Homo sapiens: one gene and its partner. The protein of the gene in region 2 interacts with the protein of the main gene of each other region in a pairwise test. Each region holds a gene or a part of one and is shown on either strand. Other genes may lie near its edges.

Evidence for each region. Proteins that work in one complex are often made in the same cells at the same time.
Region 1: the proteins of CHD1L (region 2) and BAALC interact in a two-hybrid assay, tested with the Homo sapiens proteins (one study listed by BioGRID).

What each region holds. Positions count from the first base shown.
Region 1 is NC_000008.11:103,206,708-103,213,738, reverse strand, and holds part of BAALC (brain and acute leukemia cytoplasmic protein), read right to left. Parts: intron 821-7,031; coding exon 654-820; intron 1-653. UniProt on the Homo sapiens protein: May play a synaptic role at the postsynaptic lipid rafts possibly through interaction with CAMK2A.
Region 2 is NC_000001.11:147,273,666-147,280,696, forward strand, and holds part of CHD1L (chromodomain-helicase-DNA-binding protein 1-like), read left to right. Parts: intron 1-1,688; coding exon 1,689-1,803; intron 1,804-2,438; coding exon 2,439-2,592; intron 2,593-6,360; coding exon 6,361-6,526; intron 6,527-7,031. UniProt on the Homo sapiens protein: ATP-dependent chromatin remodeler that mediates chromatin-remodeling following DNA damage.

The sequences.
Region 1 (7,031 bases), on a different chromosome or scaffold from region 2:
GAGGAAGAGACTGCAGATGCCTGAGCCCTGCCTACTAAGAGCGCTCATTCTGGGCTGCCCCTCCTGTACCCATAAGAGGATCTTCCCAACAATAGCTCTGGGAGAAAAGAAAGGATACCCGCCACGTCCTGGGACATCACTGACCTGCCTCTTCCAACAGTCTGGGGATGATGCTGTCACCACATTCTGCTATGAGAGCCACCCTTGGGGGCCCTTCCAATGTCCACCTGGTTGGAGGGCCTGAGTAAAATGCGAGGCTTGTTTCCAACCACTCTGGTCTTCTCTTTCCTTCCTCTGCCCACTCCCCACCCTGCCAACCCCTGAGACTGGCCAGCTGCCTGGCCTAAGACTGGTTCCTCTAACCAGCACAGTCCTCACCATCAACATGGTGACAGTGGCCACAGAAAACAAGATCCTTGAATAAAGCTGTACTTAAGCAAACATACACATGGAAACAAAAAGCAGCAACCCTCAAGGCAGGGTTTTGGGGTGGGGTTTGCAGCAATTTTTACATGGGTGGGGCAGAGACTTTTTTTTTCCAAGATGAGCCATCCCTGGTCCCTCCCTGGACATAGCGGCTGGGTGGCTCTGCCCTGAAGCAAGCCCTACCCCCATTCTCCAGTCCCCAGTTGATTCTGTGGCTGCAACCCTACCTCTGTGGTCTGAAGGCCATTCTGTTTCTGGGTCAGAGGGCCTGAGCTGAGGCTCTGGGGATTTGGGCACTGGGTCTCACAGTTCGTCTTCTTCTCTGGGTTGGGTATTCCACCTGGGGCTGTAGATCGGGGCACACCATTGGAGGGCAGTCCATCTTCCAGCATGCCTGGGGGAGGTAAGCAGAGGATGGAACCAGAAGCTTGCACATGGCAGATGTTGCAAACAATCCCAAAATGGTGGAGAAACAGATAGTCAAAATGAAAAAACAAAAGTTGCCAGAAATCCCACCATGCAGAGCTACCCTTTTCTATAAGAACATATATGCTTTTTACAAAAAGGAGATTTTAAAACAATTCTGTAACCTGAAATTTTTACTTAATGATACCTTGATGACTTTTTTCTATACCATTAAATATTCTGCCATGTTATTTTTCACATGTCTATGTCATCATTTATTTACCTAATCCCCTTTGCTTGGATATTTGTTTCCACATTTTCATAATAAATCCTACTGTGATGAAACACCTTGTGGTTAAAGTTTTATTTTAAATTACTTCCTTGGGATAAATTCCTAGAAGTGGGATTACTGGCTTGAAGGTTATATAAATGTTGGGTTTTTATTTTGTTTTGTTTTTTAGAGAGATGGTCTCACTCTGTTGCCTAGGCTGGAGTGTAGTGGCATGATCATAGTTTGCTGCAGTCTCAAACTCTTGGGCTCAAGCGATCCTCTCACCTCAGCTTTCCAAGTAGCTGGGACTAAAGGCACGTGTCACCATGCCCAGCTAATTTTTGTATATTTTTTTGTAGAGACAGGGTCTCACTATGTTGCCCAGGCTGGTCTTGAACTCCTGGCCTTGAGCAATCCTCCCACCTAAGTCTTCTAAAGTGCTGAGATTACAGGCATGAGATAACATGCTTGGCCAATACAGAGATTTTTTTTAATAGCTCCAGCTCAAAGTGTTGGACTGAGTATGTGTGCCTTTTACAACAAATGCCAAGAAATGATAGAAGTTTAAATAAATAGCCTCACTGAAAAGGGAGAGGACTACACTGAGGAGTTAATAAAGGATGAACAGAATCTTATTGGAAAGAGAAAAGGTGGCCCAGGAAGCATGACAGGGAATGCCAAGTATGATGTCAGAAGCTGACAGAGTTTCTGCCATAGTTACAGGGAGGCAAGAAGCAGCAAGGTAGCCCGGACTTTCTACTCTTCCACCTGCTGAGGCCAGTCAGCAACAATAGAGGAGTCTGTATGGGGCAGGGACTAGAGAGAAGGGCAGTGCTCTCAGGAGCTGGAGACACCTGCGAGAAAGAAAAACCCAGGTTAAGAAGACTGGTATTTTGAAAATAGTGCCAAGAGTTAGGCCAATAGTAGTTCCCATCCCTGCTCTCCAAGTGGCTCTCTCAAATAGATGCAGATGACATTCTAGCAGGAAACTTCAGTTACAAAAATCAGTACAAAAACAAGAATGAGCAAACATTTGAGGAAGGCCAACACCACAAAAAAGAGACAACTAACTCTGCAATGGAGATCCCCAAAAGAAATGGAGTTAATATGGTATTCAGAAAAGAATTTTCAATAAGTATAGTCAATCTGCTCAGAAAAATGGAGATAATATAACCACAAAATGAGGACGAGTTACCCAAAAATGTTCAATCAGAGATATTTGAAATAATAATCTTAAATGTTGAAAGAAAAAACCCTCAATAGAGAAGCTGAATAACACGATAGACAGAAAGAGCAGTTTCGTGAGCTGAAAGGGCAGGCCAAGGAATTCTCCATGGTAGCACAGAGGGCTGAACATTATTAGGAAATGCAGGATAGAAATCCAGTAAATTAAGCCTTGATCTAATAAGAGTTGTAGATGAGAGGCTAGAGAAGATTGAGGGGAAGCAATATTCACAGAAATAATAAAGATTTCTTAGAACCAAAGAAAGATGTGAAACCTCAATTTGAAGTAGGCTACCAAATACTTGGCAAGAGAAGCCCAACCTAAGACAGACCTTAGTGAAGTTTCAGAACATCAGTGATATCAAGAACAGCTTAAGAAGAGGAAAAAAAAATCAAGAGTGAGACAGACATCAACTTTTCATTCATCTTATGAAAACATTGTTTCATAAGAAGACTATGAAACAATGTTTTCAAGATTTCAAAGGATATACACATTTTTAAGTCTTCTGCAATATATTTTCAAATTTACCTCTACAAGTCTGTCTTCTGTTGACCATCTGCCAACAGTATATAAGACAGCAATATTCCCTAAATCCTGACAAATACTGAATATTTTCTTTTCTGGTTTTCATCTTTGTCAATTTAAGAGGAAAAATAAAGTATCTCATTGCTTGGATTAATGCTTCTTGATTTACTAAAGATGTTATATTATTTATATGCCTAATGACTAATTGTGTAGGTTTATATTTTAATTGTAAAGTCATTTGTTTCTCTTTCCTTTGGGGTATTTGCCTGGGCTTGCTTTTAATCAAACGTAAAGAAAAACAAACAAAATCCTTTCCCTGGGTGTTGAGAAATTATTTGCCATGGGGCAGGCATCAGAAGCGCAGTGTATTTTTGTATATCAAGGGCGGGAGGGTGTTGACTGGCAGAGTTGCTAAGACTGCAGTTCCCACACAGTGAGATGGCAGTGTCCACAGGACACCTATCTGTGTGTCACCCACTTGCTGTGCCAAATGCTAATGAGCTTTCAACTGTGACCATGGGATAGAAATCAGAATTCAAAACATTGAAAGTCACAGTGGAAAGTATCTGGTCCAGAGCTCCCTGACTGGCAGGCCTCAGCACATTGGGGTGCTGTGATGGATTCAAGGTGAACAGAGAAATGGATTCCTGCAGCTAGGCTTGTCCCAAATCCTTGTGGCTTCCTTCCTCCACCAATTACAGCCTGCCCCTGCTCTTCCCATTCCCACCTTTTCTCCATCCTGTACCTAAAGGGGCCTGAGATGCATGTGTATGAACACCACAGTACACATGTCTCATCTCTGCCCACTCCTCCCTGCAAACAGCCTGGGGCTAGGGCAGTGTACACCTGCAGAAGAGATCAGGAAAACAGGCCCATAAAGACTCTGGAAGCAGGCTTGGTGTGGATTTGGATTTGGTGTCATTCAGACTGGATTCCAGGGTCCCAGCACCCACAGAAGAGCCTAGAATAGTGCTACTCAGTGTCCTCCAGGGACCAAACTGTTGTTACTGTCTGCTGTGGGATACATATAAGAACTGATTGCAAGCATTTACAAATTTCTATAGCAATTTGACATTGCCAGAACATCCAAAGGCAGACTTGTCTAGTTGAACTTACTGATTGAGCAGGGTGCAAACTAAGTTGAGTGCTTTTAAACTCATGGGGTGAGTCACAAGTGGGGTGAGTTGTGTATTAATCACACAAAGTAAGACCATATATTTGTCTGTAATGGACTGGGGGAATAAAAGCAATGAATTCTGAAGGAGGGCTGAGGCTTTGGTAGATACGTCCCCTTGGCCTCTGGATAACTCAGCCTGTGGGAAGGGTGGGGCTCATGGGGTGAAAGGGGCAAGGGGTGTCTGAAGCACAAGACCAAGGTAGAGACTCCATTTCCTAAGCCTAGGGTAGAACTGCCTTCAGCCCTTGGGGCTGCTGAATGGGAGTCAAGGCTGGCCAGGGCTCCCTTTGCTTGCTGTCTCCCCCAGTGTGCCATACAGATGTTGCCTTGTTTTTTTTCAGATGGAGTCTCGCTCTGTTGCCCAGGGTGGAGTGCAGTGGCATGATCTCAACTCACTGCAGCCTCTGCCTCCTGGGTTCAAGCAACTGAACTGCCACAGCCTCCTGAGTAGCTGGGACTACAGGCATGCGCTACCACACCCAGCTAATTTTTGTATTTTAAATGGAGATGGAGTCTCACTGTGTTGGTTAGGCTGGTCTCAAACTCCTGGCCTCAAGTGATCCACCCGCCTTGGCCTCCCAAAGTGCTGGGATTACAGGTGTGAGCCCCCACACCCAGCCTCCAGATGTTGCCATTTTCTATGTGCGTCATGACTTGGTACCCGGGTCAAAGGTCTGTGAGAGGCCCCTACTGAGCCATCCACTGAATGCACCATGATGCTGCCAGCCTGGATGGGGATGGCCACTCCCTTGTCATACCTGAGACACTTCAAGGGGCACACCTGACCCCAATCCTCCCTATGCCTATGGCCAGGTCCTCCTGGGGGTTGAAGGACATGAAACACAGCTCCCTTCTCCCTTCTCCCAATGCAATCCAGTTGCTGATCCATGAGGAGGGCAGCAGGGAAGCAAGGAGAGGCCTTACGCACCAGGATCAAGAGCAGGCAGCAGGGAATATATCCCAGGGAGGCAGAAAGGCAACAGCAAGTGGGGCCAAGTATGATTTACAGCTCCAAGCCCGGGGACACGCTCCATTGTCCATTGGATTTACTTATAAAACACACATTAAAAGACAAAATTATGAAGGATTTCACGATGGTGCCTGCAGAGCATTAGGTCCTAAGCGCAGGGCCCCTTGTGAGCCCAGCAGGCCCCGTGAGGCTGCACTGGCTGCACATTCGTGAAGCTATCCCTGCCAACCCATAAAACAGACCAAGGCAGAGCTGCCATAACTGAGGTGCCGATGGCCAGTCCTTCCCTCTCAGCAGCTCCTCCTATCCCCGGCATCTTTGCTAAGCCTAAGCGCTGCTAGAAACACAGTTTAAAAATCCATCATTTGGTCTAGAGTTTTCATTTTTCACTGGTGGCCAAACAAAAATTACAACTTTGGTTTCTTAACCCCCCAGTCTAGACTTCCTCATCTATTAAATGGAGATAATACTGCCACCTTCATGGGGCGATTGTAAAGATTAAGTGAGACCATATCTAAAGGTTCTAACGATGCCTGCACACATATTGCACTGATTATTGGTGGCACAGCCTATCCCCGCCTCTTGCCCCTCTCCATTAGCCACACTGGTTGCATTCCTGATTTATGAGTCACACAACCAGCTAAGTGCTAAGCCACTGGCTTACTGAGTATGATGAAACAGAGAAGCTCTGTGACAACCAGGGCCAGCTTGGGGGATTGGCATTTGCCAAACAATGAGCAGGGGTCATCTGTCCAGTGTGGTCAAGAGGACACCCCAAGGGGTTAGGAATATAAGGTAATTTTCTGTTACTTCTATCTGTAACAAACCAGGTGATTTTGCTGCATGGATTTTATTTAACTCATATTTTCTAGTTATGAAAAATAGATTCAATGTTAGAAAACTTTTAGAATTCAGAAAAACACAAAGGAAAAATAATTTTTTTACCTCCTCACCCAGCGATATGTCCTGTGTAGGAGACCAGAATATGCCACCCCAAAATGTGCCACTTTGGCATAAGGATTATTTTAAGCTGAAGGCAATGGAGAAGTAGTTCTCTGTCACCGCCTCCCACCTGCCCCCTCCCCCTGCCATTTGCCTAAAAGTAGGGCATAAATTTACTTTTCACTGGTCACTAAACAAGAGGAAAGGCTTCTTCCCCTCTCTACCAGGAAAGACAAAGGTTGATCACTGAAGACAACTTCAGACCCTTATCAGCCTGGAGAGGGCACCAGAGGAATCTACATTAACAAGCTTTACTAACTAGCCTTTATCTACTGTCTATCTGCCTTCCCATAATTTTTTACCCCTAGAGACTCAAAGTCCTTTTCCTTTGTCTTGTCACTTCTCTAAAAATTTACTGGTTTTTGTTGAAGATGCTACATACGCTGGAATTCCAAGCCACTTCTTTGAGATTTAGTAATTGCCTAGATATCTCCCATGTATATGTAAAATATACGTGTTAATGAGCTTCTGTTTGCTTTTATCTTATTAATCTGTCTTTCATTACAGAATTAATCACAGCTAAGAACTAAGAGTGGAAAGAAAGTTATTTTTTCCTCCCCTGGACCTGTCAACAGAGCTGTATGTCCTTCCAACAGATGCTATTAGTGCCTGCCCAGATCCACACACCTGACCCTGCACCCATCCCCAGGTGTGGTGGATGTTGGTAGCTAACAGCTCACCCCTGGCTTCTTCTCCTAAGGCTTGCCCTTGACTGAAGGGAGCCCCCTTACCAGGAGAAGCCTTGCCGATTATATTAATATCAGTGGCAGTCCATGCTAATGACCAACTAAAAATACCTGTTGGTGGGGAGAGTGGGTACAATAGCCCAGCTCCTTTGCTTCTAAGCAATTTCTGTCCTTTCACTCCAAAGTGACCCATAGGATCAGGCTGAGGCTAGACTAATCCTGAAACCACATCTTTGCTCAGCTCCTTGTCCTGCCCCATCCTGCTTCTCTCCCTCCCTCCTTCACACTCTTCTCCCAGGAATGCCCCTAGGAGTCACTTGCACAAAATCTCCATCTCAGGCTCT
Region 2 (7,031 bases):
CAGAGAGCAGCATTATGTTTGAAATGTCTAAAATTAGGAAAAAAGAGATCTCTGCTTTTCAGTTAATCTCCTTGGAGGACTCAGAGTAGATCTGGGAGCTGAAGCAGTCCTGGACATTAGTCTTCTCCAAACACTGTTGTGTTTGCTGTCACAGTTTTGTTGTAGTTTTGCAGTATTTTCATTTATTTAACAGGTTTCCTTCCAAATTTCAAATATTTCTGTGATGAGTCATGTTGCCACCAGATGGCAGTGATAGCTCATGAATATGTTCCTATTCATGGATGTGGGTGTGGCTTATTTATAAAAATCTCACCCCTCGGTGAAGAGCTGCACTTAGACAACATGAATTCAAGAAGATAATTTTATGGAACACATTTTAAAATGAAATAAGCACCTGAAAAGTATTATAGTATAGTGGATAAAAGCACGGGCTCTGGACCAAGACTGCAAGGGAATGAATCCTGGCTCTTTCACCTTCTAGGCTTGCAACTTCAGAGAAGTCCCTTACCCTCCCTTTCAACATCTATAAAGTGGGGAAAATCGTAGCAACTACTCAACTTCCCGACAGGGTTGTTGTGAGGGTTAAAGGAGTTAATATAGAGAGAGTGCTTAGAATAATGCCTGGCAAGTAGTAAGCACAGCGTAAGTGTCATTATCATTATTATTAGGTATAATTTAGCATCTCTCAGTAATCGGTCATGATTACCTCCTTGTTCCAACTTCAACTTGATACGAAGACTTTAATTAGAATATTCCTGCCTGATTTGTCTGGAGATCCAGCTTATGGTCAGTAGTCCTTCTTAAAAGTTAGTCCTTAATTCAGGTTTATGGAACAAGCCCTTTCAGGCTTGCTTGTTTCAGCAACCAGCTCTAACGACCCTGGCAAGAGGGAGTCTGTTTTGTACTTGTTTTCACATTAATCAAAGAGAAGGCTGCAATGTACCTTCACGGTTCTCTTAATTAATTCCTGTAACTCAAGGTACCTCCTCAGCTCTCTTCCTGCAGCACTGAAGAAAGACCAGCAAGAGTGTTCTGAGCAAGCCTCAGAACACTCAGAGTAAATGACAAGAGTGTTCTTGTCTTGCCGTTGGTTTTGTTACTTTCTTTTTGATTAATGTGGAAACCAGTACAAAAAAGACTCACTGGAGTTTTCTCTAATCAGAGGGAGGAGGTTTCCCACTCTGCTCAGGAGTATAATATCATCCACTCTTCTCATTAACTTTTTATCAGAGATCTTGCTACCTAGTTGTAACTTGCAAGCGACATTCGGCACTCTTCTCTTGACAGTGCGCACTGCAGACCTCTCATATTTAGATCTGTTTTCTGAAAGAGCATGTGTCCTTTTCCTCAGACTACTCTAATCAAAATCTAATCAAGGTTTTTAAGCAGAAGAGATAAAGTGGCTCCATGGCACTGACTTAAGTATCCACCTTGGCCACTTGCCCCTGCTCCGCTCATTCTGTTCCATTCAGTAATAAAAATTTTCCCATCAGGCAATAAGAGGTCAGGTAGCACTTCTCACCGCTGGAACAAGGCTTTGGAGTTAGGGGTGTGGGTCCATTTGAAGGATGAAGCCAATTGTTTTGACTGATTTCAGTTTATCAGTCTGACCCACTCTAGCCTTGTGCTTATTTTCTAGCTCCTCGTCTTTGTGCTGCTGATTACATTCCTTTTTGCATTGTTTTCAGGTGGAGTTGGCATGAACTTAACAGCAGCAGATACTGTGATTTTTGTTGACAGTGACTTTAATCCTCAGAATGACTTGCAAGCAGCTGCCAGGGCTCATCGCATTGGCCAAAACAAGTAAGTGATTTTTTTCTGCTTCCTTGGCTTGCCCAGCAGCAGTTCTGGGTTGTGAAAAAGGTGAAGAATATAGTCCTGGTGACAGTCCCACACTGGGAGCTGAGAGACCACCAGGTTTTAGCTCATCTGTGCTATTGACTCCTAGGGTAGTATTGGGTGGGTCACATTATCAGTCCAGACTGACTTTATTAGAAGGAGTCAAATCAAACTGTGAAAGGATTAGAAGGAAACTTTAGAAGTCATTTAACTCATCCTTCTTGAGTTAGGGTCTGACTCAGTTAAAAAATGGGGTTATGGGGCTATGGAGCTAAGCTAAAAAAAAAAAAAAGAAAGATAGATGTTGCCCTTTGATCTGAGGATAATTTGATCTTCCAGATATTTTCCTTGGCTACAGATAAGGAATCCCAGTCATGGTTACCCCATCATTCTTTCTTTGACTGTCTGGAATGGTTCAGAGAGAATTTCAGGCGAGTTCTCTCTAACAAGTGCTCAGGACCAAATGAACCAATCTCCCTTTCATTGTACCCTGAATATGGTATTTGGTTTTGTTTGCTTTTAGATGTATTTACCTTGCATACTTTTGCCCAGCTTTGCACACCCTTATAGCACACTACCCTTGTTTGACTTATGTCCAGGTCTGTTAAAGTTATTCGGCTGATTGGTCGAGACACTGTGGAAGAAATAGTCTATAGGAAAGCAGCCTCCAAACTGCAGCTCACCAACATGATCATAGAAGGAGGCCATTTTACTCTGGGAGCCCAGAAACCCGCTGCCGATGCTGACCTCCAGGTATGATATGATATACTGTTCTTCACTTTGGAATATACCAATACCCTTTGTGGAGGAGAATGTAAATGAAAAGAACCAGCACTCACCCTCTCCCCAGCTACACATTTGTTCCTTGGCCTCCCTCACACCTGCCACAGTGCTGGCTGTGTGCAGGGTCTGTAGGAAGTAAGGATTAGTTCCAAGCCTCATCACTTCTTGGCTGTTTGGGTTTGAGCGGCTTTCTTAACTTCTTAGATCTACTCTTTTTGCATTTCTAAAAATAAAGACACCACAGGTTAGCTCAGAGGGCTGTTAAGAGAATTAGTTAAAATAAAGAACTCAATAACAATTAATTCTGTACTTCCACCTTAGTCCCAGAGCCTTTGATCAGTGACTTACATTACTTCATACTCAGAAGAGGGCGAATGAGATCAGGAATTCATAATTGTGCCTTAGAAAAAATGGGTGAAAGAACTAGAGGTAATTTATTTAAAGAAGGGAGTACTGGATGGGAGACAGACACTGGATTGGAAGATTTTAGAGCTCTCTTTTGGAAGAGGACTTAGAGTTACTCTGTAGCAGCCCTTGGGTTAAAATTAAAACTCATAATATTTCCTGGATGCTTTGTTTTTGCCCTAAGGATGAGGGGCTGGATGCAAAGAGACCAACTCCTAGGATACTAGAAAGATGCAGGTATGAAGGGAGTAATAAATGTCTGTCAAGGGCAGCATCAGTGGGAGAGTCTGGTGTGAGAAACATTGCAAAAGAAGGAAGGACAGGAGTTGGCTACTGTTTAGAGTTGGGTCTCAACAGTAGGGAGATAGAAAATTCAAAGATGGCTGTGAGGTTTTAGGCCCCTATGATGAGGAGAGAAGAAAGGAAAATAAGAAGTAGGGCAGAGTTTTAGGAAGATAAAGAGAATTTAGGCTTTAGTCAGAGTGTGCAGTAAAAATACAATATAAACAAACTATTGTTAGAGGCAGACTCAGACAAAAGGAAAGAATTTTATTTGTAAAAGTTTGCAAGATGGACTAGGATTGGAAAGGACTAGTCCATCAAAAAACATAAGTGTTTAAGAGAGAAAAAGTGACACAATATTAGAAGCAGAGTTACTAAGTTTGTAATTAGTCTGAAAAAACAGCAGTTTTCTTACATGGTTACCGTATCTGCAAAGGCCAGTGCATATCTTTACATATCAGTGTTGCAAAAGACAGGGATCCTGTTGTTTTTGTTAGGGAGTTAGTAATTACAGGAAAGGCTCAAGGTTTTATTAATTTTGGGACTAGAACTAGAAAGAGTAACACTGGGTTTGTTCTTTGTTTATCTTAGGGGGTAGGTGTGGCTTTTTTCTTTTTCTGACTTTCCTTGTGTTGCTGACTGTGTCACATGCATGCTTAATTAACCATAATGGTGCTAGGGCAGGCTGTACATTTTGTTTTCACACTAAGAGACAATTATAAATGTGAGATGAAAGCTTGAGAGAGAGGTAGAGGTACGCTGTAGATACCCTTAAATGCAGTTTTCCACAGAAAAATTATCCATAGAACCTTAAGAGAGAGAAGGTCACTGCTGGGCATAGTGAAGGGGTAAATGACAGAGCCTCACAAGGCCCGCATTCTCTTGTTAGAGGAGGAAGGATGTCATAGGTTGTTTGCACTCTCCCAGTGGAGGGAGCGCCAGGGGTCCAATGAGGGGTATCTTGTGATGTGGGCTGCTGGACACATCACTGTGAAAGATGTAGACATACCTCCACCCCATGGGGCCACAAACGAGTGGGAACATGGACTGCTGGCTGAGAGCGACTCTGTTGGACTTCTTGCCCAGCTCATGGTTATCGGAAAGTTACTTTCTGACTCTAATGTCTGATTTATCTCTTCCCCATGCAGATGCTATGAGTTATTTGTGGTTACCAAAAGCAAAGGTGATAACCCAGAGCCCTTGTCTAAAAAGAAAGCAGGGGATTTTTGTTTGTTTTTGTTTTTTGGGTTTTTTTTTTTTTTTTTTTTTGAGACAGAGTCTCGTTCTGTTGCCAGGCTGGAGTGCAGTGGCGCGATCTCAGCTCACTGCAACCTCTGCCTCCCGGGTTCAAGCAATTCTCCTGCCTCAGCCTCCTGAGTAGCTGGGACTACAGGCGCGCACCACCACGCCTAGCTAATTTTTGCATTTTTAGTAGAGACGGGGTTTCACCATGTTGGCCAGACTGGTCTTGATCTCCTGACCTTGTGATCCGTCCACCTCGGCCTCCTAAAGTGCTGGGATTACAGGCATGAGCCACTGCGCCTGGGGGTATTTTTTTTTTTTTAAATACCAAGAAACCAAAAGTAAAAGATGTGGTTCTGATTTGGTAAATCTAAGCAGTAGGTATGGAGTTCTGAAGTCCTGAAAGAAGGAAACAGGTTTTTTATCCTGCAGGGAGGACACAGTAGAAACAGGCAGGCAGATGCAGGTGTAGTGAACACTTATTGGATACTGTGTGCTGAGTGTTGTCTGAGGTGCTCTTTTCCAGTTGTTTCAGTAAATAAGAATAACAGCAGGATGAGATAGACACTATCTTTATCCCCATCTTAAGTAATTTGCCCAAGGTTATTCAGATTTAGGATTCCAATCCAAGCACTCTCTAACCTCCGAGCACATGCCCTTAATTACTGTAATATACAGCTTCTCATAAAAACACATGTAATTTTCTTAATGACTAAGACACATTGCAAGTGAGCAATAACAAGGGAGAGCCAGGAGGTGAGCATAAGTACAAGGGGGTGAAAGGGAGGGTCCCAGTATGGACCAATTCTTATCATAAATAGTTGGCTTCCTACTATTTTTGGTACCAGCTGCCAAAGCCAGTCATCCTGGTTATGTGTATGGAGGGTAAATATAATATATCTAGGTACATTCATGCTTAAGTGAGCTGTCTATTGTTTCTTCAAGCTGTTACAGAATACCTTAACATTTCCAAGTTACTCACAAAATAGACGATCTGGAGATAACCCAGTCTAAAAGGGCAAGATGAGAACAAGGGCCCAAGGTTTGAATCCACCTTGGGTCAGGATCTCAGAATTAGTGCTTACGGAGGTGCAAAGTTGGAAGTAGCAAGTGAAAGCCAGGAAAAATTATCTGTGCTTTCTGCATGGTTCCTACAGCCATAGGGAATAGGCTGAGAGTACTCCAGAGAGGGACGAGAGAAGAGAAGCAGGATAGTGCAATGCCAGAGGAACATCCAGAAAAATTCAAACTGAGAAAAGGCCTTCGGGTCTGGTGGTCAGAAGTTGTTACTGATCTTTGCCAAGGTGGTTTCGATAGACCACTGTGTTAGGAAAACAAATTGCCAAAGAAAAGGAGTCAGTTCATGATAGAGGTAAAGTTCCTAGTGTAGCCTTCCCTTTCTAAGGAGTCTGGCAGTGGAGAGGTTGGAAAGTAGCTAACAGGGTCTCTGATCTCAAGTGGCTGCTGGGAATGCTTATGAAAAAGTCAGTGAGAGGTGCTGTAGAAAATGCAGGAAGTTACTATTATTCTTCAAAAAAATTGGAGGCTTATACATTTTTTTTGTTTTGTTTTTATGCAGAATTGTCAAAGTCAATACCTCTGATAATCATTTATCACCTCTCTGCTTACCCATCATCCAACTATTAAATGGCCCTGGCTGTTACTATCTATGATGGGGAGAGCAGAAAGGCTGCCTGTTCATTAGAGAAGGACTGTGCCTGGTGTCGTTAATCCACTTAGCCAATCACTGATATCCTAATGTTTCTTTTCATGAGAATTTGCTGGACTTTTTTGTTTCCTCTATTCAAGTTGAGTGAGATACTCAAATTTGGTTTGGATAAACTGCTGGCCTCTGAGGGGAGCACCATGGATGAAATAGACCTGGAGTCCATCCTGGGAGAAACAAAAGATGGCCAGTGGGTCTCTGATGCCTTGCCTGCAGCAGAAGGAGGGAGCAGAGATCAAGAGGAAGGAAGTAAGTTGGAGGTTAGAGCAGAGCAAATGGCACAACCACCCCAAGCTAGAGCTCACGTCCCCATGGAAAGTTTTGGATGCTGCTCTCTGGGGCATCTTTTTTCTCCCTTACCCTATTGTCATTTGGGCACACTGTTTAAGACTTGCTTGATAAAAGAACGTTACCCAAACTAACTGGAAATTTGTGTGGCTCTTCCCTTGTAGCTGAACTGTGAACCAAAATCATAGTATTAATGTTTATGATAGTATCAATCTTAAGGCTTTGAATTTGTACCTTTTCTCCCTTGGTTGCAAACATCTTCTTCTTTATTAGTAAAGCCTACCATCCTTGGTATGATGCTTTGCACATAGCGATTCCTCTTCTAAACAGTAGAATTACTTGTTTTTAAAATTGCAGCTAACATTAAGCATTTATTTTGCGTTCATCAACAGTGCGGACTTTGTCATGTGCTTTTTCCATTTAATTTCTGTAATCCATGAGATGTAGGAGATGGTTTTGTCTTTCT